Regions from separate parts of the Homo sapiens genome. Here regions 1, 2 and 3 are each linked to region 4. Evidence: fine-mapped expression QTL. A gene starts in region 4. Each other region holds a variant in brackets. All regions are shown on one strand. Distances are from middle to middle.

Region 1 (8,155 bases), 140 kb after region 4:
TACAGAGCTGTGGACTGCCCAGAACTTACAGCAGGGTCAGCAAATTTTTTCTGTAAAAGGTAAAATAGTAACTTTATGGTCTCTGTGGCAACTACTCAGCTCTGTGATTGTAGCATGAAAGCAACTATAGACAATACCTAAACAAATGAGCGTGGCTGTGCTTCAATCAGATCTTACATACAAAAGCAGGCAACAGGCCAGCTTTGGTCCACAGGCTGTAGTCTGGTGACTCCTAGTTTAGAGTACTGTTACTGGCACATCACAGGCACACAATAAACATCAAGTATATGATTCAATGTACAGTGGCAAGAGAACAAACTGTCATGCTAAAATCATTTCAACCTTAAAAATAATTCAGCTTTCCCTATCTTTTATTGTTACTGATTACAGTGATGGTATTCAGGTGAACACTCTGCCATTTAGAATATCATTTAGCCTTAGCCTGTGCAGCTAATGCAGCTTCTTCACACCACACAGCCATCTTTGACATATTTCAACTTGTTAATGATTCATGTTCGCAGCCCTTTTGGCTGATGCTATCACTGCAAAGCAGTGATATGTGTGAGTCCATTCATTACGGTAACAAGCTTTCCCTCAAGCTTTGTTTCTTGCAATATCTATCATTTCTAGTGTGATCTCCTCCACTGATTTTTAAAAATCCAGTCAACAGTAGGATTTTCTTGTTGAACTGTGAAGGCCTGTGCTCGGTAGGGACTTTGTGAATCATCCCTGCTTGGGTCCCAGAGCTACTGGAGGGCCCATCACTGGAGTGGCTGGTGAGACCCTCCAGGGCATGAGAGTTGCTATGGGCCTCTGTGTGGCTTCTAGAGGCTTCCCAGGGGCACAAAGACTATGTGACCCAGGTGGAAGCTCGGGAGGCTCACGCTGGACACATGCTGCACACTCTGGCTCCCCTGTGGCTGCAGCTGCACCCACCTACCCAGCATTCTCCCCACGACCTGTCCAGCCCAAGCCCACGGCACTCCCAGGGGAGCCCAGGACACCCTCAACTTTTTAGTGGATTACTAGAGTATCAGACCACCCATTTATCTCTCAGTTCCTCACTCCCACCCCTGCACCCAGCAAGTCACCAAGTCCCCCAGGTGAGTAAACTGGAGCTAACAGCAGTTGGTACTTACGGCATATACTGGATTTGGCTCACTCACACGTGGTATTCCTATCTTCATCTACTGTATCTTCCTGGACTACATAAGCTGCAAAGTTAAAAACTGCATTTCTCAGATTCCCTTGAGCTAGGTTCCAGACGTGATTTATTATCAGTCAATCAAACACATTCGCATGAGTTTTGTATAGGGAACAATGTTAAGTCGGAAGAAAGGCAGAATGCAAGACACGGTTCTGGAGCCAGCAGCTTTATTGGTAGCATCCTGACTCAATAGGCAGCTTTCCTGATAATAGCAGGAACATCAGCCTCCTTGGTGGCCCACTCATTGTGTGGCTCTGGAAATCATTCCTGGATATTCCACCTAGTCTGTTTCTTTAGCTTTCCCAACAACTCTGTGAGCCATGTAACATTCTGTAATAAATTTCTTTCTGCTTAAATTAGTTAAAAGCCTCTTTTGTTTTCTGCAAATGAACCCTGAGCAATATAGTTGACTAAGATCAAACAACTACAAGTCATGCGTTGTTTAACGATGGAGATACATTCTGAGACATACACTGTTATGTGATTTTGTCTCACAAACATCACATAGAGTATATTTACACAAATCCAAATGGTATAGCCTACTACACACCTAGGCTATATGGGATAGTCTGTTGCTCCTAGGCTACAAATCTGTATAGCATGTTACTGTACTAAAGACTGTAGGCAACTGTAACACTGGTTACAATGGTAAATATTGGTAAATATGGTAAACAATGGTAAATATCTGTATATCTAAACATAAAAAAGGTACAGTAAAAATATAATCATGGGACCACCACAACGTTGTTATTCAGTGCATGACTGTATTAGCTCAGACGTTAACCAAAATGAGTCTGCCTTCAAAGCTCCATTCACTCAATCTCTATACTACACCACTGCAGTTCTGGGAGGCTGTTCTCCCTCAGGTCTCCCAGCTCTTCTAATGTCTGCTGAAGTTGGAATTCTCTTCTGCACATGGACTACGAAACTGACATGCTCAGTTATCATTTCATACTAGCTAAAGGATCTTCTCCTTTGTGAAGCATCCCTCACCACTACTACTGTGATGGGTCGGGGCCTTTCATCTGTTTTTCCACAGCATCTATGCTTCTCTTCACTGTATCATTTATCAAATTGATGATTTCTGCGTCCTGTAATAAACAGTGAGTACCTTAAGAACAAATGTCATTTCTTATTTCTCTCTACCCTCAGCAACTGGCTTATTAGAATAAACAAATAGTTAATGCTGCTAAGTGAATGAATGACCTAATATAATGGGAAAACATAACTTGGAGGATGGTTCAGTTGGCCGGCTTTATAACATGTTAAGATGCAATAATGGACAGGAAAGCATGAACAAAGTACAAAGCGCTGTTATCCACCATCATAAGTCTTTGTCTATATCCATCTTGTCTACATGGGCTCTCTAAGGGCAGAATCCTAGCTAGCTGATCTGTATCTAGCACAGAGCTTGTTTCTTAGTGTATGGAATGAAATCATCCACTAAAAATTATTAGTTGAATGTGGCTGGTGCCAAATACTCTTCCGGGCAGATCAAAAGAGATCTCAACCAAGATACAAATGATATAATATAATATTTTTCTTTCTTTCTTTTTTGTTTTGAGATGGAGTCTCACTCTGTTGCCCAGACTGGAGTGCAGTGGCATGATCTTGGCTCACTGCAAGCTCCGCCTCCCGAGTTCAAGCGACTCTTGTGCCTCAATCTCCCAAGTAGCTGGGATTACAGGCTACTATTTTTAGTAGAGACGGGGTTTCACTCAGCGGGGCTGGTCTTGAACTCCTAGCCTCAAGTGATCCTCCCGCCTCGGTCTCCCAAAGTGCTGGGATTACAGGCATGAGCCACTGCACCTGGACGATATAATATTTTTCTCTTTTAAGAGCAAACAATAAAGAATTTAAACTCATTTGCTTTTAGCAAAAGCAGTACTGTTTGCTCTTAAAAGACATAATTTTTTAATCTTTTAAGAGCAAACAATACTGCTTTTGCTAAAAGCAAATGAGTTTAAATTCTTTTCATATCATTCAGGCCATTTTGAGGAAGGTCTGGCAGAGCCTTTTGGTTGTTCCCCAATATCTTTCTCCCATTCTTCCTGAGTATTAGAGTCATCGCATGTAAACCAGGCATTAGTCACCCAGAATAAAGACTGCATGTCCTCGCTCCTTGAAGTGAGAGATGGCCATGTGACTTAAGTTCTAGTCAATGGAATGCAAGTAAAATTAGAGTGTACAACTTTTGGGAAGTGTCTTTAAACAAACCACAGGGTGGAGATGATACCTTTCTCTTCCCGTTTCCTTTTCCCCACAGGATGGAATACAGGGGGGACAGTTAGATTCTGAATTGTTAAGCAGAGCTGCTTGATGCAGAAGATGAAGACACAAGAAAGAATGAGCCTAGGCCGGGCACAGTGGCTCACGCCTGTAATTCCAGCACTTCGGGAGGCCGAGGCGGGAGGATCACTTGAGCTCAGGAGTTTGAGACCGGCCTGGCCACCATGGTGAAACCTCGACTCTACCAAAAAAAAAAAAAAAAAGCCAAAATTAGCCGGGTGTGGTGGCATATGCCTGTGGTCCCAGCTACTTGGGAGGCTGAAGTGGGAGAATCACTTGAGCCCAGGAGGCTGCAGTTGCAGTGAGCTGATATTATGCCACTGCACTCCAGCCTGGGTGACAGGGTGAGACCCTGTCTCAAAAAAAAAAAAAAAAGAATGAGCAAGCCTAGATCCTTGATGGTCATCTCAGCCCTGTCCTGCCTATGAGGAAGACTTAAACTTTGCTCCTGTTTTAGCCACTGTTACTTTGCATTTTGGTCACTCATCCTAATATATAAAATTAAAAAACTAAAAACAGGTTCTTTGTAACTATTTTGTTGTGTACTAATCATCAATCGAGTCATGAATATAAAGAGCTCTTTTAAAAAATATGTTCAAACCACAATCTAATCCAAATATAAACAGACCATAAAACCGTGTGTGAATGTAGACCAATAGAGTCAGAATATCAAGCCTAGTAACCAACACCAGAATTCAGAACAGTCAAGCTGAGTGTAACGGCACTAACTCTGTCAGATGAAGGGATGATTACCCTACCTGATGGTGAATTCCAGCAGCTCCTGGGCTCCCTGAGGGTCCAAGTGCTGAAGACTATACACTCTTTCAAGGCTCTGCTGCAGGAACTGCTGCGAAGGATCCTCTTGAGGTATGATGCTGGGAGAAACAGCTGATGACACCAGTTTTCTACCTGG[T/C]AACTAAGCAAACACAGTGGGATTATAGAGTCATTAAGTTTGGTGGCTCAGCTTTTGGTAACACACACACAAACACATAAAAGCACATTAAAAATGTGAGCTAAACAAAACAAAGGGGAAAAAAGGCTAGGAGATTCTATAAATAACATTTCTCCCCTTCCTCAGCAACAATTGGGAGTTAAAGAGAAAGAGACAAAATGCAAACATGGTCTACCCAATACAGCCACAGCTGCCAGGAGAAAAACAGAAAAGGTATAATATTTTCTATTGCTAACTGAAATAAATGGGCCAACCATAGGAAGGAGACTAAAAATTAAACTGTTGCTACATCTTTTTTTTTTTTAGACAGAGTTTCACTCTTGTTGCCTAGAGTGCAATGGTACCATCTCGGCTCACTGCAAACTCCACCTCCCAGGTTCAAGCGATTCTCTTGCCTCAGCCTCCTGAGTAGCTGGGATTAGAGGTGGCCGCCCCCAGACCCAGCTAATTTTGTATTTTTAGTAGAGACAGGGTTTCTCCATGTTGGTCAGGCTGGTCTCGAACTCCTGACCACAGGTGATCCGCCTGCCTCAGCCACCCAGACTGCTGGGATTACAGGCGTGAGCCACTGCACCCGGCCACATTTATCTTTAAAACACTATCTTATCTTTCACTTGAAGGAAGAGTAATGATTTATTCCCAAATAAACTTATATAGCATACAATTTTTTCATGAGAATAATTTTTTTTTATTTTTGGCCTAGCCCTTCAGATATTCTTACTGTTAAAAGTGGTTACCTTTTAAGATGGATGGGGAGGAGAGAGCAAAGAGTATTTCACTTTTCAATTTGTATCTACTTGTTTTTTGTTTTTTTTTTTGAGATGGAGTCTCACTCTGTCGCTCAGGCTGGAGTGCAGTGGCACAACCTTGGCTCATTGCAACCTCTGCCTCCTGGGTTCAAGCAATTCTCTTGCCACAGCTTCCCGAGTAGCTGGGACTACAGGTGCCCACCACCATGCCCAGTTAATTTTTGTATTTTTAGTAGAGATGAGGTTTCACCACGTTGGCCAGGCTGGTCGTGAACTCCTGTCCTCAGATGATCCACCCGCCTCAGCCTCCCAAAATGCTTAGATTACAGGCATGAGCCACCGCACCTGGCCTCATTTTGTATATTACTCCAAATAAAGTGATTTGGAGTCACCCAAGCAGGGATGAGTTAATGCAAATAGAGAGATTGGAAGAGTACCTGGGCCACAGCATTCACGAAGTGTTTGCTATTATTATTACGATCCATTTTTAAATTTTCTTCTTTATATCTCTAGGTTTTAAAAATAGTAAAGGTTTTATTTTTAAAAAATAAGCACTTCTGGAGAATCATGGCTATATGTAATAGTTAAAATATAACAATTTAGGCTGGGTGTGGTGGCTCATGCCTGTAATCCCAGCACTTTGGGAGGCCGAGGCAGGCAGATCACGAGGTCAGGAGATCAAGACCATCCTGGCTAACACGGTGAAACCCCGTCTCTACTAAAAAATACAAAAAATTAGCCGGGTGTGGTGGCAGGTGCCTGCAGTCCCAGCTACTCGGGAGGCTGAGGCAGGAGAATGGAGTGAACCTGGGAGGCGGAGCTTGCAGTGAGCCGAGATCGCGCCACTGCACTTCAGCCTGGGCGACACAGCGAGACTTCGTCTCAAAAGGTAATAATAATAAAAATAAATAAATAAATATATAACAATTTAAATTCTTGATCTAAAATATAATCTATTGTTCCAGGTTCCTTTCTTCTTGCCTAATATCAATAACCCAGGGACACCAAAAAAAATGAATCATCTTAAAAGGTAAAGGATACAAAAGCAAAAGTATAAAACAATGGCAAAGAGCCCAAGAGAGAAGGAGAATGAACAAACAAGTTTTCAGAGAATATATGGACTGCTTTCTACTATTTAATAACCACAAAGCACAAAAAATAAAAAGCCAAAAACAAGCTGCACACAATGGTGCTCACCTGTAATCACAGCGACTTGGGAGGCTGAGCCAGGAGGATGGCTTAAGCCCAGGAGTTTGAGACCGCCCTGGGCAACATAACAAGACCCCCATCTCAAAGGAAAACATGAACACAAATACCCCTACCCCATGCAAAATAAAAACAAGGACAACAGATGTTTTCAACATACCCTCAAGGCAGGAACAAGATGAGAAAGACTGTCTCGGAGGTAGGCATAGTGCCTGACGGTGTGATCTGAGAACAATGCTCGCATTGTTGGACAGGTTTTAGCAGCATTGAAAATAAGTACCAAAACTGCAATATCTGATAGATCACTGGGTTAAGTAAACTTGGAAGTATAAAAGGTTGGCCAGATTCTGGCACTCTCACTTTCCACCTCCAAAATCTCCATCAAGAGACTATGATTTTCTAATAATCAAAGAAATGCAAATACAAACAACAAAATACATTCCCCTACTCCACCCACACCCCCAATTACCAAAGGTTTTTAAAAATGCCAGAGACTGCCAAGAATACAAAAAAATGGAAATGATTTTGCCTATAAAGTAAGCAACTATATTGCCTATCAAAGTACATACTGGCCAGGCATGGTGGCTCACGCCTGTAATCCCAACACTTTGGGAGGCTGAGGCGGGTGGATCAGTTGAGGTCAGGAGTTTGAGACCAGCCTGGGCAACAAGGTAAAACCCCGTCTCTACTAAAAATACAAAAATTAGCCGGGAGTGGTGGCAGGCACCTGTAATCCCAGCTACTTGGGAGGCTGAGGCAGGAGAATCATTTGAATCCAGGAGGCGGAGGTTGCAGTGAGCTGGGGTGGTGCCACTGCACTCCAGCCCAAGCAACAGGTTAGGAATTTGAGACCAGCCTGGCCAACATGGTGATAACCCGTCTCTACTAAAAATACAAAAATTAGCTGGGTGTGGTAGCGGGCGCCTATAATCCCAGCTACTCAGGAGGCTGAGGCAGGAGAATTGCTTGAACCCGGGAGGCAGAGGTTTCAGTGAGCCGAGATCAAGCCACTGCACTCCAGCCTGGGTGACAGAATGAGACTCTGTCTTCAAAAAAAAAAAAAGGAAAGAAAAGCAAAGAAAAGAAAACTCAGACCACCCTAGCTACACTGCAGAAGGAGATGCCAAAGCTGCCTGCCAACACATCAGGGCCCATCCTAAGCACAGAGGATACAAGCTGGATCATCCATGTCTGGTTCAGCTGTGTCAAAAAATGGGTGGGTGCTCAGAAGCTCTGGCACCAAGGGAAGCACCAGGGTTGGATGCCGACTTCCCAGAAACTTCAAGCACCTGAAACAAACAAATAAGAATGCACATCAACAAATTAGTAAAGTTAGTCCTTTGAAAAGTACTAGGAACTGGAATCAGAAAACCTGAACTGGAATTGGAAATTCTCAACCATATACTTTTGCTAACTCTATGACTTCAGATAAGTCACCCAGTTATTCTGGAACTTGGTTAATTCATCTAAAAAAACTGGTTATTATAAAGATAAAAGAACTGTTTATTTAACCAACAGCCATTTCCCCCATCTTTCTTCCTGAGAGAGCCCTGATTTTACTCAGGTATCAGGCAGGCAGCAAAGTGCTCGGAAAAGGCAGGTCCAGCCCAAGAGCTGAACCACTATTGGTCTAAACCCATCATGGCAACCCCATTCCCATTTTCCAGTGACTGGTTTGCTGGTACGCAAGTAAGCCAGTTCTAGACAATGGAGCACGAGAGTATGCTGGCTGGGGAGCTTCTCAGGGATGTT
Region 2 (8,155 bases), 790 kb after region 4:
CCAGGGATCCCTGACCAGAATAATAAGAAATTACCATAATTTCTCAATTTCTAGCACCACACAAATTGCATCTCACACACACAGACACATACACACACAGGGGCGGGTTTACCTACTTCTCAGAAAATTGCACAGATTCAACAAGAAAGAATAAATAGTAATTAATGTGTTCCTTAATGGCTGGTGAATAATAATAAAATGTTAACTAAAACAAAAACAACTTTTATTTTTAAACCCACTATCACCCCTCACCAAATATTTAAGTGATAAAGTCTAAACTGACAGAACAGCAAATTAGTACAGTCCTTTGGGAGGGAAATATGGTGATACATAGTAGGAAGCTATCCTGTTATTTGTTGCTTTTATTTTTAAATGACAGAAAGAAACAAAATTTAAAAAGGCTATGTTTCATAAATCACAATACATTCTTACAATATATACTATGTAAACACTTTAAAAATGAGATGCTTGTGTGAGAACTAACTTTGAAGGAGGCGCAAGGTATTTACAAATTATTCTATTGAATGATAGCATTTGTGCAACACCTATGTACTAGGGCTGTGCTGACTGCTTGTACACTTGCTGTTTAATTTTACAATAACCTTACAAGGCAGGTGGCATACTAACCTCATTTAACAAATAAAATGGAAGTGGAGGCTTAAGTTTATTATCTAGTATCACTGAGGGAGGACATAGCACAATTAGGATCTAAAACCACGAAACCTTGATTTCAGAACCTACACTTCCACTCACTGTGCCAGTGTGTCATAAAGTATACATACTTTTGAAAAACTCATTTATTTAATATGGATCAATGTTATATTTCTTTAATATACAGCAATGTACATAATATCAAAGTTATGTATTTATCTAATATAGATCAAGAGTTCACAGCTCTTATCACTAAGGATTTCTGGGTTTCTTTAGTAAATTTTAAGAAAAGTGTTATGAATTAACAGTACAGATGATACAAGCATATGGCAAAAGTAACAAGGAGGTACTCCAATGACTGAAAGTTTAGAGAACAAAACTCTTACCTTCCCGGCCAGGCATGGTGGCTCATGCGTGTAATCCCAGCACTTTGGGAGGCTAAGGCGGGCAGATCATGGGGTCAGGAGATCGAGACCATCCTGGCTAACACGGTGAAACCCCCGTCTCTACTAAAAATATGTAAAATTAGCCAGGGGTGGTGGCATGCACCTGTAATCCCAGCTACTTGGGAGGCTGAGGCAGGAGAATAGCTTGAACCCGGGAGGCAGAGGTTTCAGTGAGCCAAGATTGCGCCACTGCACTTCAGCTTGGGTGACAGAGTAAGACTCTGTCTCAGAAAAAAAAAAACAAAAACAGTGGCTCACGCCTGTAATCCCAGCACTCTGGGAGGCCAAGGTGGGTGGATCACAAGGTCAGGAGATTGAGACCATCCTGGCTAACATGGTGAAACCCTGTCTCTACTAAAAATATAAAAAATTAGCCAGGCGTGGTGGCGGACGCCTGTAGTCCCAGCTACTCGGGATGCTGAGGCAGGAGAACGGCGTGAACCCGGGAGGCGGAGGTGGCAGTGAGCCGAGATCGCACCACTGCACTCCAGCCTGGGCGACAGAGTGAGACTCCATCTCAAAAAAATAAAAAAATAAAAAAACAAAAAGCTCTCACCTTCTCAAAAGGCACCTTCTTCTTTATATGCTGCAATATTGTATGACATTTTCACAACAATTGCGTATTACCTCAAAGAGGTTTTTTGAAAAAATAAAACAACCCCTCCTGAAACATTTTTCAAATAAAACAAAAGTAAAGGCACTATCTCAATGTGTACCTTCAGAAACTGGAAACATCCTTCATATCTAACAATAAGAGTTAAGTACAGGTATCAACTTGATTAAATGGTCCTTAATCATTAAATTAATGACTATAAGAAAAAGAGATCATAATATACTGCCGATTATTACAAGAACCTGAGTATACATATACCATATATCATGATAAAGACTCTTTAGACCAAAAGTAAAGGTGAAAAGAGAAATGAAAACAGGGATAGATGATATAAGGCTTTTCCCTCAACTAATTTACTCTAACACTATCTTTGTAATACATGTGTTTAGAACAAAACAATGCCACAATGAGCATCTAAGTTAAAACCGTTATCAGAGAGGCAATTCCAGAATAAACAGATACAATATGCTCCTTGATGGAAAGACCTGCTAGTGAGAACTGACTCCTTCCCATATTCGTCTATAAATTTAGCACAATTCTAATCAAAATCTCAGTGGGATTTGTCTTAGAACTCATCAAAATTATTCTAAAATTCACCGGAAACAGTAAATTCATGACAATAGCAAAGAAAAATTTGGAAATGAGCATATTTGCCCTATCAGATATCAAACTTCTATAAAAAGCCACGGGGGAGGGGTGGTAATGGAATAAACACAGACCGACCTGTCACTGGAACAGAACTGAGAATCCAGAAAGAGGCCTTATGTATGCAGAAAAGCCTTGTGGCATTTGAAATATGAACAAGTCAATGAACTGAGAGAGGCAAAAGCCTATCCATTTAGGAAAAATTTAGATCCCTACCCTTACACTAGATACAAAAGGAAATTCCATACAAACTAAAAGAGCTCAGTGTGAAAAAAATTTTTTCATATAAAGTATATGAAAATATTTTAAAGATAATCTTGGGATGGTAGAGATTTTGCTAAACCAGAAAAAAAAAAAAACTATAAATATGTGAAAGATTTTCCAGTTGAATAATGAAGAATTTTTTTAAGTGAAAGATCTGACCACCTAAGTTAACACTTCTATGTAAAGACACCATAACACAAAATTAAAAGACAAATAACAAATGAAGAGAAAATGTGTAACACATATAACAAAAGATTAACCATTGTGACATCTAAAGAACTCCTATAAAGCAATAAGAAGAAAAGATAAACAACCCAGAAAGGGAAAAAATGGGCAAAGGTATGAACAGGCAATATCCAGAAGAAATGCAAAATTTTTGTCTGTACAAAAATTATGTTGTAGATTCATGTAACACCCAGTAAACTACATTCTAGGAGGTTAAAGAAGTCATGTTTTTCAGAACTAACAAATTACATATATTTACACAATATCAGAATGGGAAGTGCCTGTCTGAACTTGAATCTACAGACAAAAATTACCAAGAAAAATCATTAAAATTATCATAGACTTAAAAAAACCTTTGTACTAGCATTCGTCTAAATCGATGTGAAAAATTCTAAAATTTATCCAGGCAGGAGAAGAAACACAGTTAATAAAAACATGAAAACCTCATTATCAAACAAGGTGATTATAAATTAAAAAATAAATTTTTTAAATGTGAAACCATTAAATCTTGCTGATGCTTGGGGAAAATGCAAATCAAAACAATAACATGACAATTTTCATAAATCATATTGGCAAATATCTAAAAAATGAGAATGCCCAATTTGGCAAGGGCACAGGGCACCCAATATTCTCTTCCATTACTGGTGGAATTTTTAACAACATGGGAAAATAGTGGTAATATTTTCTTTTTTTTTGAGACAGTCTCACTCTGTCGCCCAGGCTGAAGTACAATGGCATGATCTCGGCTCACTGCAACTTCTGCCTCCCCAGTTCAAGCAATTCTCCTGCCTCAGCCTCCCAAGTAGCTGGGACCATCAGTGTGCATTACCATGCCCAGCTAATTTTTGTATTTTTAGTAGAGATGGGGTTTCACCACGTTGGCCAGGCTGTAGAGATGGGGTTTCACCACGTTGGCCAGGCTGGTCTCAAACTCCTGACCTCAGATGATCCACCTGCCTCAGCCTCCCAAAGTGCTGGGATTATGGCCACCGTGCCCTGCCGTGATATGTTAAGTGAGGAAAAGACAAATTAAACATACAGGAAGATCTAAACCATGTTCTAAAATAATAGTAACTATGTTTTATGAGTACCTTTATGCCAGACACCAGGACTATTTACATGTACTGGTACACTTCATATTCACAATAATCCTATGAGTTAACGCTATTACTACCCTCATTTTATGGAGGAAGAAGCTGAGACAAGAGATCAAGTGACAGAGCCAAGATTTCAACTCAGGTTGACTCTAGAGTCCCAGATCTTAACCACTGGCACAATGTATAGAAATTAATCAAACTCTTTAAACACAGTGGAATTGAGTATACTGTCTACTTTAATTCCCGATTTTGTCATATATATTCTACTATTTTACTTCTCAAATACAACGAGTTTTTAAAAGGATCGGTAATCACAAGACAGCCAACAGTGTCCCTGAAATTCCCCTAGAGATGCTAACTACAAAATAAAACTTATGAATCATAATTCAATAGCTTTAAATATTGTAGTACAAGAACATTTTTCTAAATGAAATTTTATGTGCATCTATAACATAAGAAACAGATTAGGCTGGGTGTGGTGGCTTGCACCTGTAATCCCAGCACTTTGGGAGGCTGAGGAGGGCAGATTACGAGGTCAGGAGGTCGACACCAGCCTGGCCAACATGGTGAAACCCCATCTCTACTAAAAATACAAAAATTAGCAGGGTTTGGTGGCAGGTGCCTGTAATCCCAGCTACTCGGGAGCCTGAGGCAGGAGAATCACTTGAAGCTGGAAGGCAGAGGTTGCAGTGAGCTGAGATCCTG[C/A]CACTGCACTCCAGCCTGGGTTAAAGAGTGAAACTCCATCTCAAAAAACAAACAAAAAAAGAATAAAGCAGTATTTTATTCTATCAATGTATTTCAAAGCTCAAACGTGGCCGGGTGTGGTGGCTCATGCCGGTAATTCCAGCACTTTGGGAGGCCAAGGCGGGGGGTGGATCATTTGAGGTCAGGAGTTCGAGACGAGCCTGACCAACATGGTGAAACCCCATCTCTAGTAAAAACATACACACAAAAAAAAGCCAGGCATGGTGGCACGTGCCTGTAGTTCCAGCTACTCAGGAGGCTGAAGCAGGAAAATCACTTGAAGCTGGGAGGTGGAGGTTGCATTGAGCCGAGATGGCACCACTGCATGCATTCCAGCCTGGGTGACAGAGTGAGACTGCATCTCCAAAAAAAAAAAAAAAAAAAAAAAAAAGCTCAAATGTATAACATGTATAATGAGAACAATAAAATTCTTCTGACAAACACCAACTTTAAATTATGGATGATTGGGCAGTCTTATGTCAAATTTGTTTTGATGGCATGGTATCAAGAAAAACCGGATTCACAAAGATGAATAGATGATAAAGCATGTTTTACAAATGATAATGTTTTGTGTGTGTTTTTTAAATAGTACATTAACGCTATCTAAGAATTTAATTACACCTATCCAGAAGTTTTAAAAGTAAAACATTTCTAAATTAATTATGTAATAGTGTTAAGGAATGAATACTTGGTAGTCGTAAACATTTTGGTAAAAAATAAAAACTTTACAATATGTACTAATCCTGATATATGCATTAGGCAGTCATGTTATTGCATAATGCAACAGTTCTAATAGTACTGAATGTGCTTATATAATGTTATATGAACAAACAAGCACTAGCCTAAAATTTCAAAATATCAACATAAAGATACAGTCTTACTAATCAATAACATTTTTATCCTTTCTAACTCTGAGGAAAAAAAAGGAAAGAAAAAATTTTAATTAAAAAATAAAATGGCATTTTAAAAGTTTCATTTCTATATACAAAGTGAGACACTCTATTCCAAGGATTGTTGTCCTGGGTGTAAGCATTATAGATAATTTACATTTTCTTCCTTTTGCTTATTTTCTCTCAAATATTCTAAATGCACTTTTTTGTGTGTGCTTTTTTACTTTTTATTTTATTTTATTTTATTTTTGAGATGGAGTTTCACTCTTGTTGCCCAGGCTGGAGTGCAATGGCGTGATCTTGGCTCACTGCAACCTCCGCCTCCTGGGTTCAAGCAACTCTCCTGCCTCAGCCTCCCGAGTAGCTGAGATTACAGGCATGCACCACCATGCCCGGCTAATTTTGTATTTTTAGTAGAGATGGGGTTTCACCATGTTGGTCAGGCTGGTCTCCAACTCCTGACCTCAGGTGATCCACCCACCTCAGCCTCCCAAAGTGCTGGGGTTACAGGCGTGAGCCACTGCACCCAGTCTATTTTATTTTATTTTCTTGAGACAGAGTTTGCTCTGTCGCTCAGGCTGGAGTGCAGTGGCATGATCTCAGCTCACTGCAACCTCTGCCTCCCAGGTTCAAGTGATTCTCCTGCCTCAGCCTCCCAGGTAGCTCAGACTACAAGCACCCACTACCATGCCCGGCTAATTTTTGTATTTTTAGTAGAGATGGGGTTTCACCATGTTGGCCAGGCTGGTCTTGAACTCCTGACCTCACGTGATACATCCGCCTCAGCCTCCCAAAGTGCTGGGATTACAGGCATGAGCCACCGTGCCTGGCCAACTTTTTATTTTAAAATTACTATAACTATAAATCACAGGAATTTACAAAAAAGTACACAGGGAGGTCCCAAGTACCCTCGCCCAAATTCCTCCAATCCTGAGTTTATTCAGGTTTCACCAGTTTTGTATGCAAATGGGACTTGAGTACGCTAGGATTTATATGCAGTATGTGTGTGTGTGGTTGTATGAAGTTTTTATCACGTTTGCAGCTTTGTATAATCACACCTGAGACACAGAACTGTTCCATCCCTACACAGCTCCCTCATGCTACCACTTTATAACCACACCACCCCTCACCTCCCATTCCTAACTCCTAGCAACCACTAAATCTGTTCTCCATCTCTGCAGGTTTGTTATTTCAATAATGTTACATAAATGCAATCATACAGTATATAACCTTCTAGGGTTCTCACTTGTTTTCACTCAGTATAACTCTCTTGAGATAACCTGGCAGTACAAATCAGTTGTCTCTAATATATTAAAATTTAGCATGAGATGCATTTGACTGTGTTTAAACATTTATAATATTTTAAAGTTAAAACATTAAAATGTGAATCAAAGGTGTATGAAATCCCTGTTTCATTGACAGAGAACAGGGATTCTGAGATACAAATTTTGAAAACTGGGAATCTAATACAAGCCTAGTACAATGTAGTACAGGTTGAGTATTCCTTATCTGAAACAGCTTTGGAGCTGAAATACTTTGGATTTGGGATTTTTTCAGATTTGGGAATATGTGCATTATATACCGGGTTGAGCATCCCAAATCTGAAAGTCCAAAATCTGAAATGGTTCAAAATCCAAAACTTTGAGTGCCAATATGACACTCAACGGAAATGCTCACAGGGGCATTTCAGATTTTGGATTTTTGGATTAGGGATCCTCAACCAGTACAACAACTTTATAGAAGAAAAGCCCAAGACTCAGTGCTATGTCTTATCAGTGTTTACAAGAGTACATGGTTTACAAGAACGCCTGGTTTTGCACTTGTTATGGGCAAGATCTAGATTCTGGTTCTTTCCCAACCCAGTTGAGTATGTTACATTCAAATATGACCACTTGCTATTCTTCTCAAATGACCACAGTTTGCTACCCCTTCAAGTTCTTCCTAATGATTGAGGAAATGAACTCCTCTTAAATTCCCAGATCTGTGTGGCGCTTTAGCTAGCACCACACCTCAGGTCCAATTCTCCTGTCTTTATATGCAGCAGGTCCACAGGACAAGGCCTCCCTCAGAAAAAGCTACCCCAATCTAGGACAAAAACAAACTCTTTTCCCTCCCCCTCCCTCCATGTGCCCAGAACCCCTTTCTCCTTCCTCCCTAGGCTAACCTGCTAAGTCTTCCGGATAGCTCACTACACTATCTGATAGCTAACTGGGTGTGACAAACCACGTCCTCACACCTTAGAAGGCAAAACACTCCAGGAACTTACTTCTGGAATACCAATACCTTCACAGTAATTTCCCTGCCTTTCCAAAGAGTGCTCTAAACAGGTAAAAGCTATAATACAAACTCTATATATTTTTGTCACAGATACAGAAACTGGCACCATCGTTTGCATATTTTAAAAATCTGGTTGATATGGTTATCACTCTATCAATATTAGATCTAAATGGAATTTAAAGTAGTGGTAAAAGGCTGGGCGTGGTGGCTCACACCTGTAATCTCAGCACTTTGGGAGGCCAAGTGGGAAGACTGCTTGAGGCCAGGAGTTTGAGACCAACTCAGGCAACAAAGTGAGACCTG
Region 3 (8,155 bases), 64 kb after region 4:
CCGGCTGGAAAAGGTAATATTTTCCACACATAAACATTAGTGTAACTATTGGACTTAAAAAAATACTTTTTTTTAGTAAGAGAAGCAGAAGATGCTCCTGAACTGCATCATTTCAACTAGCATTTATTTACTCATGATTAAAATACTACAACAACTATAAAAAGTCAAGTGATGGCCAGGTGCAGTGACTCATGCCTGTAACCCCAACACTCTGGGGGGCCAAGGCGGGTGGAGCACCTGAGGTCAGGAGTTTGAGACCAGCCTGGCCAACATGGCAAAACCCCGTCTCTACTAAAAATACAAAAATTAGCTGGGCATGGTGGCTCTCACCTGTAGTCCCAGCTACTAGGGAGGCTGAGGCGGCAGGATCGCTTGAACCTGAGAGGTGGAGGTTGCAGTGAGCCATGATCACGCTGCTGCACTCCAGCCTGGGTGACAAAGCAAGACTCTGTCTCAAAGGAAAAAAAGAAAAAGTCAAGAGCATAGGGAGTATTAAAATCAGACATAACCAATGGTCTCTCATCTGAACAGCTCCATTTTTTTGCTATCATTATGTGTTAAGGTCTATTTGCTAAACATTACTATTTGTACTAAAGTTTCAAGTGTATCCTATAACACATTAGTGCTGACTTAGGTTTAATGTCCTTTGCTGTACACTATACTTGAATATCATACTTATATATCACAACAAAAGTATCTTTCTCTAAGGCAATTACCATTAATACTGCTTTAAAATTACAAAATGTGGGCCAGGTGTGGTGGCTCGCGCCTGTAATCCCAGCACTTTGGGAGACCAGGGCAGGTAGATGACGAGGTCAAGAGATCAAGACCATCCTGGCCAACATGGTGAAACCCTGTCTCTACTAAAAGTACAAAAATTACCTGCGCGTGGTGGTGCACACCTGTAGTCCTAGCTACTCTGGAGGTTGAGGCAGGAGAATCGCTTGAACCTAGGAGGCGGAGGTTGCGGTGAGCCGAGATTGCGCCATTGCACTCCAGCCAGAACAACAAAAGCGAAACTGTCTCAAAAAAAATATATATATATATATAAAATGTGAAGATTGTTTTTATAGTTTCACAACAACTGAATATTAATGTCTTTAAATAGTAAATCACCATCACAACAAAAGCCCCACAACATAATCTGTTTCATTTTATAAAAAGCACTGACATTTATAAAATTGTCATAGTCAATTTATAAAACTGTAATAGCAAATTATTTTTACTCAGAATAGTACTAAATTAACAATATAATAAAAACATAGGCCGGGTGTGGTGGCTCACACCTGTAATCCCAGCACTTTGGGAGGCCGAGGAGAATGGATCATTTGAGGTCAGGAGTTCGAGACCAGCCTGGCCAACATGGTGAAACCCTGTCTCTACAAAAATATAAAAATTAGCTGGGCCTGGTGACACACCCCTGTAATCCCAGCTACTTGGGAGGATGAGGCAACAGAATCGCCTGTAATCCCAACTATTCGGGAGGCTGAGGCAGGAGAATCGCTTGAACCTAGGAGGTGGAGGTTTTAGTGAGCTGAGATTGCACCAATACACCGCAGTCTGGGCAACAGTGTGAGACTCTAACTCAAAAAAAAAAAAAAAAAGGATAAAAGTAGAGACAATAGAGGCATCTTGGTGAATACCGAATTTAACAAAGCAGATTAAGAGAAACAATTAGTTTCAAAAAATAATATTCAATTAAATCTCTAAGATCCAGGGCTTTGCAATAAACATGTAAATAAATCCCCAATATCCATGCTGAAAGTTTAAAAGAAATGCTAAAGAAATAAAACTTTTCCTTAGTTTTGCAGTAATCTAGAAACAAAGAATGTTTCTAATATTTAGACAGAAACTACAAAGCACCTTACAAGGAGAGACGTGTAAGGATGGCAGGATTCACCAGCAGCCCTGGGCTTGTCCACAGTACTCCCATGATGAACAATAACTCCATTGTGTAAATGCTTATGAACAAAGTATTACAGGACTTTTCCAATTTAAACATACCATATTTTCTGTCAGACAATTCTTCAACTTGTTTACATAGATCAGCGATATGATTATTCCACTTCTCTGAAAACTGAGCAAAAGTTGATTCTCAATAATATGTCCCTATGTCAGAGCAGCAATAATATATAATGACTTATTTCCTATATTTTACATACTAACAGTCCATATCATTTTACTGCTTTCGAAAACATTTTTCCCTTTTTTGGTGGTTCTTAGAATTAGTTTAATAGGAGACTACAAGAGAAGTTTTAAAGTTTAATGCCTTTTTTTAGCCTTTAATTTCTGAAAAGGAGGGCAGAAAAGATCAATCAAATTAAACACGACAACAGGGAGGCCACAATGAGGAGGTCTCCAGAGGCCTTTTCGCAAACTTCCTAAAACATGTCTCAGCTGTGTGGAAATAAGGCTTTACAGCAGCTGGGTGCAGTGGTGCAGGCCTGTAATCCTAGCACTTTGAGAGCAGAGGTGGGCAGATTATCACTTCGAGCTCCGGGCAACAAAGCAAAATCCCCCCTCCCCTCCCCAACCCCCTGCCTCCGCCCCCGTCTATGCCAAAAATATAAAACTTAGCCAGACATGGTGGCAGGTGCCTGTAGTCCCAGCTACTCAGGAGGTTGAGGCAGGAGAATCACTTGAACCCAGGAGGCGGACGTTGCAGTGAGCCGAGGCCATGCCACTGCCAGCCTGGGTGACAGAGCAAGACTCCGTCTCAAAAAAGAAAAAAAAAAAAGATTAAGTAAGAGGGACACCAGACCTTAAAAATACAAGTTTAAGAGGGACCCTGACTCAGCGTGGTGGCTCATGCCTGGGACTTTGGGAGGCCGAGGCGGGCGGGTCACGAAGTCAAGGGATCTAGACCATCCTGGCCAACATGGTGAAACCCTATCTCTACTAAAAATACAAAAAATTAGCTGAGAGTGGTAGGTGCGCATCTGTAGTCCCAGCTACTCAGGAGGCTGAGGCAGGAGAATTGCGTGAACCCAGCAGGCGGAGGTTGCAGTGAGCTGAGGTTGGGCCACTGCACTCCAGCCTGGGCAACAGAGCAAGACTCTATTGAGGCAAGGTTTCTCATTCTCAGGTCCGAGGGGTTCAATAACTGGGCCCTTAGGGAGGTGTGAGCCCCCTGAAACGATGCAAGGTTTTGTGTGGAGAGTGTGCACATGCGTTTCCGGGAAAACAGCCCACAGTTCTCATTCTCAGCAGGCTCCACACTCAAAAAAGGTTAGACTCTTGCTACAGAGCTGTGGGAGCAGCTAGGTGAGGGGCCTGCCAAGGGCACTCTGGGGACTACCTGGGCAGTCTTGAGCCCACCTGGGCAGTCCTGAGCCCACTGTCCCCTAGGCAGGCTGCGCTGCTTGGTATTTGCAGAGCTGAGGGGGTGGGGCATGCGGGACTGTGAAATCGCCCTGAGATGACCCACAGCACTCAGCTGGGAAGTGAGGGGTGTGTATCCTGCAGCATCCTCCATCCCTAGGGCCATGGGGCCAGGAGAACTGACCCTTGCAGCAAGTGAAAAGCCTATCATTGACTCCCTCCCTGGCCATGCAGACAATGAACCAAAGGCACTCAAATCAAGTAAATGCCTTGGTCTCTGTGACCGACGTGACCAGTAGGCATTCCCAGGTGCAGGGAAGGTCCTGACACCAAGATATGCACCTGGTTGCCTGAGGAAAG[C/A]GAAAGGACTATCCAAGGGGTTGGGGCTGAGCTGGGTGTGGAGTGGTCCTTGTGGGTCATGGTGAGTGGGAGGGGGAGCAGCATGAGCCAGGCCTCGGGGCAGGAGGACAACCAGGAGATGGCCTGGAAAAAGTGCTGGACCCACGAGGGTTCAAGGCTGGCCAGAGAGGGAGGTGGGATAGGCTGGGAAGTCCCGAGGTCTGAAGATTGGCCCTGGCAGGCAGAAACCAGGAAAGGTGGGCAGTTACCTGCACCCTGGGGGCCAGATGCATCCTTAGCCTAGAGCAGGTGCCAAGATTTCTGGCTCTGGGTGTGACCTAATTCTGGGGAAAAGCCCCAACCCCCACCAGGACCACCTGCCCCCCAAACTACTTCAGATGCTGAGCCCAAGCCAGGAGCAGGAAGCTGGACTGATGCCTAGGGTAATCCCGACAAAGTCCCTGACTCCCCCCAGCTATGGGGCTGAAGGGGAATTACAGCCCAAACCCCAGATGCTGGCTCTCAAACTAACCCTGAGCCCTCAGTGCCCAAAGGGAGACTCAATCAGCACACTTTCCAGATGGGGAAACGGGCTCAGAGAAGTGCAAGAGCCTTGCCCAGTGCCCCAGACCAGGACTCTAGGCCCAGAGTGTTCTTTTGTCACTGTGTCCAGAGGGTAGCAGCTGCTCTGATATAGCCACCTGAGCCTGGCAACTTTCTCCAACTTTGGAAGCCCAGGAGCATGACCTGTGCCCACAGATGCACCTGGCATGAGGTGCACCCAGAGGGACAGAGGCAGATGAGTTTTGCCTCCTCCACTGGATTGTGAAGGCCTCCAAGGAGACAAGGATCTGCTTGAGAAGGCAGCAGATAGTCAGCAACCTGGGGTGGTTTAACTCTGGATGGATCTGCAGTGCCTGGATGGGACCTGGCTCAGACAGAGCTCAGTTCTGCAGGTCACTGAGGCATGGAAAGGTCACAGCTACCAAGTGTAGGAGTCTGGATTCAAAGCCAACAGCGTGACTCCAAAGTCCCTGCCCTAGCCCCTGGACCACCCACCTCTCGGAGTCACCCTTGCAAGCTCATCAGATGTTCAGGCCAGCAGCACAACCAGCCAGGGCCAGGGAAACTTGGGGAGCCTCATTCCAACATAATCCTTGCACCCTTGCCCCTCACCATCTTTCTTCCTGCGTTAACCTCACCCCCTACACAGAGCCTGGGCCACTTAACTTGGCATCAAACAGATGCCTCAATAAATCAGAGTCTGATCTTCTCGGAAAAAAAAAAAAAAAGACTTAACAGATATACAGTTGCAAGTTAGAATGTTAAAGAACATAAGCATACAACAACTTAATGTACATATAAATTCAATATGTAGCCAATCATTGTGACTATGACACAACAGAATATTAACATACTATTTTCAAAATGTATACAAGCTTAATGATCTATTTATATTCAAAATATGAATCATCAACATAATTTGCCATTAATATCTCATTCAGTCCCTTCACAGGACACATGATCCACTGGGAGTTAACACAATAGCAGCTGGCAGGCAGTGACACACAGCAAAAACGAAAACCAACAGGTGAAATAGTTCTGAAATAAAGAAGGTTTTAAAGCTAAGAGAAACCATTGAATTCCTAAGTCATTAGGACTAATTTTGAGCCAACTAATTAATATGAGATGAAACAATGTCCTATGCTTTGGTAAATTCAAACCATGTTTAAACAATGTCTATAATGGGACTTTCAAAAAGCTCCTGGCTTTACAAAGGTGAGATTATAACATAGTAATACATGCTAAAGCATTTCCCCCTGCAGATGAGCATGTTGTAACTTTCATCAGCCACATTGAGAGTCCAGAAGATGAGGGAAAAGGTTGTGGATTTCACTGAGAACTTACCAGAGTTGAACTCCCTCACTTTCCGTTGCCCATCATTGGCAGGTTCCGGAACTGGTGGCTGTGGTAGTTTGTTGGTCTTTGGTCTCTTAGAAGGTGGAGAATCATCATCATGTTGAAAAAGAAAATGGTCATTACTGAAGGAACAATTCTAGGTTACAGCCACCTCCTGGTAAATTCCCAACATTCAAAAGGTGAGCGGCTTTAAAGCTATTTTGAATATTAATAATTATTCCTGTACTATGATCTTCAGCATACATTTTTCTAGTTACATTTGAAATTTTATTCTTTTGGGATGTGCTCAAGTGAATACTGCTTTATCCTCTGTCTTGCTTCATTACTTTTTAGTTTGCTTCATTTGAATCATCATTATAAATCTCCCCTTGCCCTCAAATAACTCTGAAATTGCTGCCAATAACTATATTGTTTTAAGGCTTTTCAGAAAAAACTTTCAACAAAGACAGCCACCTAAAGTTATACAAATATAGAAGAAAGGGAATATAATAAAGCTTAGATTGGAAAAAATATTTAAGCTTATACAAAATTCAAACATACATAAACAAGGGAAGCTGGATAATTTTATGTTCAAATACTTTTAACAAGTGCAAAATGTATATGCTTAAAGAAATAGGGTTGGCCGGGCATGTTGGCTTATGCCTGTAATTCCAACACTTTAGGAGGCCAAGGCAGGCAGATCACTTGAGGTCAGGAATTCAAGACCATCCTGGCCAACATGGTGAAACCCCATCTCTACTAAAAATACAAAAATTAGGCTGGGCGCGGTGGCTCACACCTGTCACTTTGGGAAGCTGAGGTGGCCGGATCACCTGAGGTAGGGAGTTCAAGACCAGCCTGACCAACATGGAGAAACCCTGTCTCTACTAAAAATACAAAGTTAGCCAGGCGTGGTGGCACATGCCTGTAATCCCAGCTACTAGGGAGGCTGAGGCAGGAGAATCGCTTGAACCCGGGAGGTGGAGGTTGCAGTAAGCCGAGATGGCGACATTGCACTCTAGCCTGGGCAACAAGAGCGAACTCCGTCTCAAAAACAAAAACAAAAAGATATTAGCCAGATATGGTGGCGCCTGTAATCCCAGTTATTCAGGAAGCTGAGGCAGGAGAATCGCTTGAACCCAGGAGGCGGTAGTTATGGTGAGCAGAGATCATGCCACTGCACTCCAGCCCAGGTAACAGAGCAAGACCCTGTCTCAAAAAAAATAGGGCTACATTATTTATGAAACAGATACTGTTGACTCAGTCACCAGAAAGCGAAGGTCGCCAACATCAGACAAATTCACTGGAGGACCTATGTATGTGCTTTGAAAGACAACACTGTTTTGGTAAAGAATACTGTATTTCAGAAAAACATAATCATATTAACAACTAATAACACTGTAAAATGCTGATGTGTTGAATGCTACTTTAGAAAAACATGTTCAAGTCTAGGAAAAAGATTTCCGATAGAAAACTACGTATCAATTACCTAGCTAGCTAGCTATCTAGAGACAAGGTTTCATTCTATTGCTCAGGATGGAGAGCAGTGGGATGACCATAGCTCACTGCAGCCTTCAGCTCCTGGCCTCAAGTTATCCTCCTGCCTCAGACTCTTAAGTAGTGGGGCCACAGGTGGACACAGGTACACCTGGCTTTTTTTGTTTGTTTTTTATAAACAGGGTTTCACTACATGGCCCAGGCTGGTCTCAAGCTCTGGAGTCTTGCTCTGTCGCCCAGACTGGGGTGCAGTGATGCTTCTCGGCTCACTGCAACCTCCGCCTCCTGGGTTCAAGAGACTCTCCTGTCTTAGCCTCCTGAGTAGCTGGGACTACAGGCATGCACCACCACGCCCGGCTAATTTTGTATTTTTAGTAGAGATGGGGTTTCTCCATGTTGGTCAGGCTGGTCTTGAACTCCCAACCTCAGGTGATCGGCCCGCCTCAGCTTCCCAAAGTGCTGAGATTACAGGTGTGAGCCACCGCGCCCAGCCTAATTTTTGTATTTTTTTGTAGAGACTGGGTTTCACCATATTGGCAAGGATGGTCTCAAACTCCTGACCTCAGGTGATCCACCCGCCTCGGCCTCCCAAAGTGTTGGGATTACAGGCGTGAGCCACCGCACTTTCTTATGTTATTAAATAGCCTAGCCCAGGAGGGTACGGTGGCTCACGCCTGTAATCCCAACAACTCTAAAGGCCAAGGTGAGAAGATCGCTTGAACCCAGGAGTTCGAGACCGGCCCGGGCAACATAGCAAGACCCCCCCCATCTCTACGGAAGATACAAAAATTAGGCCAAGCGTGCACCGCGCCTGGCTAATCTTTGTATCTTTCGTAGAGACGGGGTTGCGTCATGTTGTCCAGGCGCATCTCGAACTCCTGAACCCAAGCCATCCTCCTGCCTCGGCCTCCCAAAGTGCCGGGATAGCACGGCCCAGGGAGCCTCATGTGTTCTTTAAGCAGTCCCTCCCGGTTGTACACTTGGATAGTTTTCTTTTTTATTTTTTTATACAGGGTTTACCTCAGTCTCGCAGGCAGGAGTGCTGTGGTGAGATCACAGCTCATTGGAGCCTTGAATCTTGGGGTTCAAGTAGCTGGGA
Region 4 (8,155 bases):
GAAGCGATTCTCCTGCCTCAGCCTCCTGAGTAGCTGGGATTACAGGCACCTAATTTTTCTATTTTTAGTAGAGACAGGGTTTCACCATCTTGGCCAGGCTGGTCTTGAACTCCTGACCTCATAATAGACCCACGTCGTCCTCCCAAATTGCTGGGATTACAAGCATGAGCCACTGTGCCTGGCATAAAGTGAATTCTTAATCATCCTTGAAAAGAAAATGGCAGGCCAGGTGTGGCTCTCACCTGTAATCCCAGCACTCTGGGAGGCTGAGTTGGAAGGATCACTTGAGCCCAGGAGTTTGAAACCAGCCTGGGAAACATGGTGAGACCCCCTCTCTACAACAAATATAAAAATTACCTGGGCATGGCAGCTTATACCTGGGGTCCCAGCTACTCAGGAGGCTGATGTGAGAGGATCACTTAAGCCAAGAAAGCAGAGGTTGTGGTGAGCTGAGATCACACCACTGCAGTCCATCCTAAGTGACAAAGCAGTACCTTGCCTCAAAAAAAAAAAAAAAAAAAGAAAAGAAAAGAAAAAAATTGGTATCCAAGAAAAATTTAAAATCTCTCTCTACATAGAAATGTATATAGTCATAGTGTATTAATCAAAAAGTAAATTCTTAATAGTTCATGACAAGCAAATGGCAAGCCAGGCATGGTGGCTCATGTTTGTAATCTCAGCACTTTGGGAGGCCCAGGCAAAAAGATTGCTTGTGTCTAAAAGTTTGGGACCAGCCTGGGCAACCTAGTGAGAACCAACCTCTCAGAAAAAATCAGAAATTAGCCAGGCATGGTGGCATATGCCTGTAGTCTCAGCTACTCAAGATGCTGAGTTGGGAGGATCACTTGAGGCCAAGAGGCCAAGTCTGCAGTAAGCCATAATCACATGACTACACTCCAGCCTGGGTGACAGAGCAAGACCCTGTCTAAGAAAACTATAAAAGAAAAAGAAAACTATAAAAAATATAAAAAGAAGACATGAAGTGAGAAGCTACCATGTCCAGGGCAAAGACAAAGGGCCCAAGCAAAAGCCCATTCCCCTCCTCACCCCCAGTAGACAAGAAAAACCATGAGACACTAAATAAAACAGAAATCACTGTGAAACCACACAGGCAGAATTTACTATCGATTTGTCAGAAATCCACTCTCAAGGTTAAGAGACAGTTTTTGCTAAGGCACTCTGCTGTAAAGTGAACAAATGAGAGTCCAGGGAAGCTTTAGGCTCCTTGATGCTGTTGACCATCAAAGGCTTAAAGCTGGATCTGGAAGAGGCAACTGTGAGGCAAGAGCAAAACCAGAAGAGGCTACCATGAGGCAAAAGATGGGCCTTGAGTGGCCACTGTGAGGCAGAAGATGGGCCAGACGAGGCCATTGTGAGGCAGGAGCTGGTGTAAGAGAGACCACCATGAGACAGGAGCTGGGTCTTGGGAGGCAGATCTGAGGTAGGAGATGGGCCTAGTGAGGCCACTGTGAAAAAGGAGCTGGGCCTAGAGAGGCCAGTGTGAGGCAGAAGCTGGGCCGGTTGAGGCTGCCAGAAGTCAGATAGGAACATGGCCGGGGAAGGCCACCATGAGGCAAGAGCTGGGCCTGGAAAGCCTGCTGCGAGGCAGGAGAAAAGCCTGGAGAGGCCATTGTCAGGCAGGAGCTGGGCCTGTTTAGGCTGCCACGAGGCTGACAGTAGGCCTGGAGAGCTTGATTTGAGAAAATTTTGAGCCTACAAAGGCCACCAGGAGCTGGGCAGAAGCTGAGTCCAAGGAGGTTGTTGTGAGGCAGGAGTTGGGCCTGTAGACACAGCAGGGAGGAAGAGCTCGGCCTGCAGAGGATGCCAGGAGGCAGCAACTGGGCCTAAAGAGGCCGACTTGAGGAAGTTCTGGGCCTGGAGAGGCCGCCAAAAGGGAAAAACTGGGCCTGGAAAGGCCGTTGTAAGGAATGAGCGGGGCCTAAAGAGGTCATTGAAAGGCAGGAGCTGGGCTTGTCGAAGCTGCCAAAAGGCAGGAGTTTTGGACTGGGGAGGCTACAGTGAGGCAAGAGCTGGGTGTGGAGAGTCCGCTGTGAGGTAGAGGCTGGGCCTGTACAGACCTTAAGAAGGCAGGAGCTGGGCCTGGAGAGGCTGACTTGAGTTCAAGTTCTGGGCCTGAAGAGGCCACCAAGTCAAAAGCAGGGCCTGAGAAGGCCACCAAGAGGCATGAGCTGGGCCTGGACAGGCTGATGGGAGGAAGTTTTGCACCTGGAGAGGCCACCAAAAGGCAGGAGCTGGGCCTGGAAAAACCAACTGGAGGACGATTTGGGTCTTCAGAGGCCACCAGGAGGCAGGAGCTGGGAAAGAAGAGGCCAATTTGAGGATGATTTGGGCCTGCAGAGGTTGCTGGGAGGAAGAGCTGGGCCTGGAGAGGCTGACTGGGGGAAGTTCTGGGCCTGGAGTGGCCAAAAAGCGAAAGCTAGGCCTGGAAAGGCCACAGTGAGGCATGAGCGTGGCCTACAAAGGCCATTGGGAGGCAGCAGCTAGGCCTGTAGAGGCTGCCGAAAGGCAGGAACCTGGTCAGAGGAGGCCATGGTGAGGCAAGAGGTGGGACTGGAAGGTGCACTGTGAGGTAGAGGCCAACAACAGGCAAAAGCTGGGCCTGGAGAGATGACAAGAGGAATGAGCTGGGCCTAAACAGGCCAGTATGAGAAAGGACCTCGGCCTAGAGAGGCCAGTGTGAGGCAGGAGCTGGGCCTGGACAGGTTGCCAGAGGCATCAACTGGACCTAAACAAGCCATTGTGAGGGAGGAGCTAGGCCTGTTGAGGCTGCTGGGAGGCAGGCGGGAACTTGGCCCACGGAAGCCACTGTGAGGCAAGAGATGGGCCTGGAGAGGGAGCTAAGAGGCAAGAGCAGGGCCTGCAGAGGCTGTTCTCAAGCCAGAGCTGGGTCTGTACAGGCCACTGCAAGGCAGAAGGTGGGCCTAAAGAGCTTGACTTGAGGAAGTTTTGGGCCTACAAAGGCCGGCAGTAGTTGGGCAGGAGCTGAGCCATAAAAGGTTGTTGTGAGGCAGGAGTTGGTCTTGTAGATACAGCCAGGAGGAAGAGCTAGGCCTGGAGAGAATGCCGGGAGGCAGCAACTGGGCCTGGAGAGGCCGACTTGAGGAAGTTTTGGGCCTGGAGATGATGTCCCGGGACAGGAGCTGGGCCTGGAGAGGCCACTGTGAGGCATGAGCTGGGCGTAGAGAGGCCAGTGTGTGGCAGGACCTGGGCCTGTCCAGGCTGCCAGGAAATAGGTGGAAACTTGGCCAGGGAAGGTTGCCATGAGACAAAAGTTGGGCCTGGAAAAATCATCGTGAGGTATGAGCTTGGCCTAAAGAGCCATTGGGTGGCAGGAGCTGGGTGTGTAGAGGCTGCTGAAAGGCAGGCGCTTGGCTTGTGGGGGGCCACGGTGAGGCAGATGCTGGGCCTGGAGAATCTGCTGTGAGGCAGATATTGGGCCCGTAGAGGCTGACAGAAGGCAGGAGCTGGGCCTGGAGAGGCTGCCAGGACACAAAAGCTGGGCCTGAAGAGGCTGCCAAGAGGCATGAGCTGGGCCTAAAGAGACCAGTGTGACAAGAGATCGGCCTGGAGAGGCCGACTTGAGGAAGATTTTGGCCTAGAGAGTCTGTCAGGGGCAGGAACTGGGCCTGGAGAGGCCACCGTGAGGCATGAACTGGGCCTAATGATGCCAGTGTGAGGCAGGAGCTGGGCCTGTCAAGGCTGCTGGGAGGTAGGCAGGAACTTGGCCAGGGATGACCTCCGTGAAGCAAGAGCTGGGCCTGGAAAGGCCATTGTCATGCAGGAGCTGGGCCTATCCAGGCTACCAAGAGGCAGAAGATTGTGCTGGTGAGCTTGACGTGAGGAAGTTTTGGGCCTACAAAGGCCTCCAGGAGCTGGGCAGGAGCTGAGCCAAAAGAGATTGTTGTGAGGCAGGAGGTGGGCCTGGAGATTCAGCTAGGAGGAAGAACTGGGCCTGGAGAGGCTCACTTGTGGAAGTTCTGTGACTAAAGAGGTTGCAAAAAGGCAAAAGCTGGGCCGGAATGGCCACCATGAGGCAGGAGCTTGGCCTAGAGAGGCCACTGGGAGGCAGGAGCTAGGCCTGTAGAGGCTGCCGAAAGGCAGGAGCTTTGCCTGGGAGGCTGTGGTGAGGCAGATACTGGGCCTGGAAAGTCTGCTGTGAGGCAGAGGTTGGGCCTGTAGAGGCCAATGGGAGGCAGGAGTTTGGGCTGAAATGGCAGACTTGAGAAAGTTCTCAGTCTGGAGAAGCCACCGGGATGCGGGAGCTGGGCCTGGAGAGGCCACTGAGAGGCATGAGCTGTGCCTAAAGAGGCCAGTGTTAGGCAGGAGCTGTGCCTGAAGAGGCGACTTGAGGAAGTTTTGGGCCTGGACAGCCCGTCGGAGGCAGGAGCTGGGCCTGGAGAGGCTGCCGTGAGGCATGAGCTGGGCGTAATGAGGTTAGTGTGAGGCAGGACCTGGGCCTGTCGAGGCTGCCGGGAGGCAGGTAGAAACTTGTTCAGGGAAGACCTCCGTGAGGCAAAAGCTGGGCCTGGAGAGTCAGCTGGGAGGCAAGAGCTGGGCCTGGAGATGCTGTTGTCACACAGGAGCTGGGCCTGTCCAGGCCATTGGGAGGCAGAAGGTGGGTCTGGAGAGCTTGACTTGAGGCAGTTTTGGGCCTACAAAGGCCACCAGGAGCTGGGCAGGAGCTGAACCAAAAGAGGTTGTTGTGAGGCAGGAGCTGGGCCTCCAGGCACAGCCAGGAGAAACCTCAGCCTTTAGAGGCCACCTGGAGGCAGCAGCTGGGTCTGGAGAGGCCAACGGAAGAAGGCAGGAGCTTGGCCTTGAGAGGCTGACTTATGGACATTTTGGGCCTGTATAGGCTGCCCAGAGGCAGGAGCTCGGACTAAAGAGACTGTTGTATGGCAGGAGCTGGGCCTGTACAGGCCACTGGGAGGCAAAAGGTGGGCCTCAAGAGTCCACTGTAAAACAGGAGCTGAGTCTTGGAAGGTGGCTGTGAGGCAAAAGATGGCCCTTGGGAGGCTGATGAGAGGCAGTAGCTGGGCCTGGTGAGGTTGACTTGAGAACCTTCTCTCTGGGCCTGGAGAGAAGGCTGGGAGGCAGGAGTTGGGCCTAAAGAGGCCATTGTAATGATGGAGCTGGGCCTGTGGGGGCTGCCATGAGGCAGCAGCCTCATCTGTGGAGACTGCCATGAGGTAGGGTATGGGCCTAAATAGGCCATTGTGAGCCACAAGCTTGGCCCGTAGAGGCCGACTGGAGAAAGTTCTGGACCTGGAGAGGCTGCCGGGAGGCAGGAGCTGAGCCAAAAGATTCAAGCGCATTACATTTATTAGGCACTTTATTTCCATTATTACATTGTAGTATATAATGAAATAATTATAGAACTCACCATAATGTAGAATCAGTGGACATGTTAAGCTTATTTTCCTGCAACAAGATGGTCCCATCTGAATTGATGGAAGAAAGTGACAGATAATCAGGTATTAGATTCTCATAGGGACAGCACAACCCAGATCTCTCGCATGCACGGTTTGCATAGGATGCATGCTCCTATGAGAATCTAATGCTGCTGCTGATCTGAGAGAAGGCGGAGCTCAGGCGGGAATGTGAGCAATGGGGAGTGGCTGTAAATACAGATGCAGCTTCCCTCACTCAACACCACTCACCTCCTGCTGTGTGGCTCCTTACAGCTCCATGGCTCAGGGGTTGGGGACCCCTGCTGAAGTGCATCCAAAAGGACCATTCCCACACCAGTCTTCATAGCGGTCAAGTGCAGCAACCACTTAGCTCCCAAGGCATGTGCCTCAGCTGGCATTTCATCACAATCAACAGTAAGCAGTAGCTTGAGTCATTGTGAGGTCACTTCCTGGAAATCACCAGCATTCCGTTTCCCATTGGCAAGGAGCTCAGCACTGCCCCTTGGATAACCAAACCTATCCCCAAATCCCATCTGTGTGAGTCTATCTCCAGGGACCCTTCTTAGCATATTAGAGTCCAACCAGGAGACATAAACCACTCAAAAGTTTAAAGTGGTAAATTTAATACAGAGAATTATTCATTGTAACAGGGGAACAGCATAATGAGAGACTGGCTAGCACAAAGTAAAGAGAACTCCAGAGAATATAGGACTAGCCCAGGCCAGGCATGGTGGCTCATGCCTGAAATTCCAGCAATTTAAGAAGCCAACACAGGAGGACTGATTGAGGCCGGGAGCTAGAGATTGGCCTGGACAACACAGTGAGACCCTGTCTCTATCCAAAAAAAGAAAAAAATTAGCTGGGAGTGGTGGTGCACACTTGTAGTCCCAGCTACTCAGGAAGCTGAAGTAAGAGAATAGTTTGAGCCTGGGAGGTCAAGGCTACAGTGAGTCATGATTATGCCACTACAGTCAAGCCTGGGTGACACAGCAAGACCCCGTCTCAAACAAAACAACAAAACGACAACAACAACAACCATTTACAGACAGAAAAGAAATAGAGCTAATAAGCTAAGGGAAGATGCTGAAATGTGACCAAGTAATATGCGGTATTTTATCTATTTAAAATAATCAAACAAAAAATAACTTATTAAATTATAATACCCTGTGCAGGCAAAGGTGCAGTGAAATGGACACTTTCTTATACTAGGAGGGGTGTTTAAATTGTACATAGTCTTCCAAGGTAAAGGTTGGCAATTTTTTAAAATAATAGAGACAGGGTCTCACCTTACTGCCTCCTCCAACTCTTGGCCTCAAGCAATCCTCCTGTCTTAGCCTCCAAAGGGCTGGGATTATAGCCAGGAGGCACCCAAAACCTTGTCAATGTACATCAAGGGCAATGAGAATGCCCATTCACCATGACTCACAGTAATCTTACTTCTGGAAATACCTTGGGGAGACAATTCAATCTAAACAAAAGGTCATCTGCATAAACACAGTGAAATTCTGGGAGTAATTGAAAACAGAGTGGTTAAGTTAAGTAAGAAACAGTTATAAGAAATTATACTATGGTATTTATAGGCACCTGGTAAAAGGTCAGTTAATGTTAGCTGCTACTTTTTTGTTGCTTTGAGACAGGGTCTCACTCTGTCACCCAGGCTGGAGTGCAGAGGCCTGATCACGACTCACTGCAGTCTCAACCTCCTTGGACTCAAGTGATCTTCCCACAGCAGCCTCCCAAGTAGCTGGGACTACAGGAACATGTCACCACACTAGGATAATTCATGTACTTTTCTGTAGGGATGGTGTCTCCTTTGGTTTCCGAGGCCTGTCTCAAACTCTTGGCCTCAAGCCATCCTCCTACCTCAGCCTCCGAAAGTGTTGTGATTACTGGTGTGAGCCACCACACCTGGCCAGCTGCTACTTTTATTATTATTCCTCTCAATTAAAAATAATTTTCATTAAAAATTATCATTTTCAAGGCTATGGAACAATATGTGTCATACAGCATAATTGTAAAAACATATACAGTCATCCCTCGGTATACAGAGAGGATTAGTTCCAGCCCCCCATCTCTGCATATACCAAAATCCATGCATACTCACATTTCACAGTCAGCCCTCTGGAACCCACATATAGGAAAAGTCCAAATATTAGTTGGGCACAGTACCAAGCACCTATAGTCTCAGCCACTTAGGAGGCTGAGGTGGGAGGATCACTTGAACCTGGGAGGTTGAGGCTGCAGTCAGCTGTGATGGCACCACTACACTCCAGCCTGGACAACAGAGCAAGACCCTGTGTCAGAAAAAAACAAAACAAAAAAACAAAAAATGGGTTAGAAATTGTAGTGAGGTCTGTTGGGCAAAATTCCATATAAGCAAAGTATAAATTAATGAAGCAAATGGTGATGAATTAGTATGATTGACTTTCTGGAGTTTCTGACAATAAAGGTAAGAAAAATGCAAAACACAGAGACAGAGGGTAAAAAAAGAAATTAGTGAAGCATTCTACGAGTTTAATAAAATGACACTGGCCATGTTCGTGCAGCAGCAGTATGTCATGATATGACATACCTTGGAGAGAAGTTAACAGATGAGGAAGTTGATAAAAATGATCAGAGAAGCCAACTACCGATAGCGACAGTCAAGTAAACCACGAAGAATTTACACAACTGATGTCAGCAACGTGGAAATATTGTATAGTGTGTGTTGAAGTTCCTGTACA

Direction of the effects. Positions count from the first base shown, and alleles are read on the strand shown. Sizes are in standard deviations (SD) of each study's normalised expression. Not every link is listed here.
As copies of C replace T in region 1, the expression in pancreas of the gene that starts at base 3,791 in region 4 goes down (moderate effect, 0.65 SD a copy in GTEx).
As copies of C replace A in region 3, the expression in unexposed skin of the gene that starts at base 3,791 in region 4 goes down (moderate effect, 0.53 SD a copy in GTEx).

Evidence for each region.
Region 1: its variant is fine-mapped to the expression of LINC03129 in pancreas (GTEx, PIP 0.96).
Region 2: its variant is fine-mapped to the expression of LINC03129 in unexposed skin (GTEx, PIP above 0.99). The same link has a PIP of 0.9 or more in prostate and thyroid.
Region 3: its variant is fine-mapped to the expression of LINC03129 in unexposed skin (GTEx, PIP 0.94).

Annotation. Positions count from the first base shown.
Region 1 is chr7:65,691,265-65,699,419 of GRCh38, reverse strand. All of the region lies in intron 3 of LINC03006 (long intergenic non-protein coding RNA 3006), which reads left to right. It also overlaps the pseudogene INTS4P2. Among named protein-coding and RNA genes, the nearest start is that of SNORA22, 60 kb to the left of the region's middle. The variant T/C (reference allele first, on the strand shown) is at 4,410.
Region 2 is chr7:65,046,137-65,054,291 of GRCh38, reverse strand. It overlaps the pseudogene CCT6P3. Among named protein-coding and RNA genes, the nearest start is that of SNORA22C, 16 kb to the left of the region's middle. RefSeq lists a silencer at 7,254-7,454. The variant C/A (reference allele first, on the strand shown) is at 4,647.
Region 3 is chr7:65,771,148-65,779,302 of GRCh38, reverse strand. It overlaps the pseudogene GTF2IP5. Among named protein-coding and RNA genes, the nearest start is that of LINC03006, 4.4 kb to the right of the region's middle. RefSeq lists enhancers at 2,912-3,411, 3,412-3,913. The variant C/A (reference allele first, on the strand shown) is at 3,682.
Region 4 is chr7:65,835,340-65,843,494 of GRCh38, reverse strand. LINC03129 (long intergenic non-protein coding RNA 3129) reads right to left here and starts at 3,791. Exons shown (of 1, transcript XR_002956508.2): 1 at 1,093-3,791. RefSeq lists an enhancer at 3,942-4,453.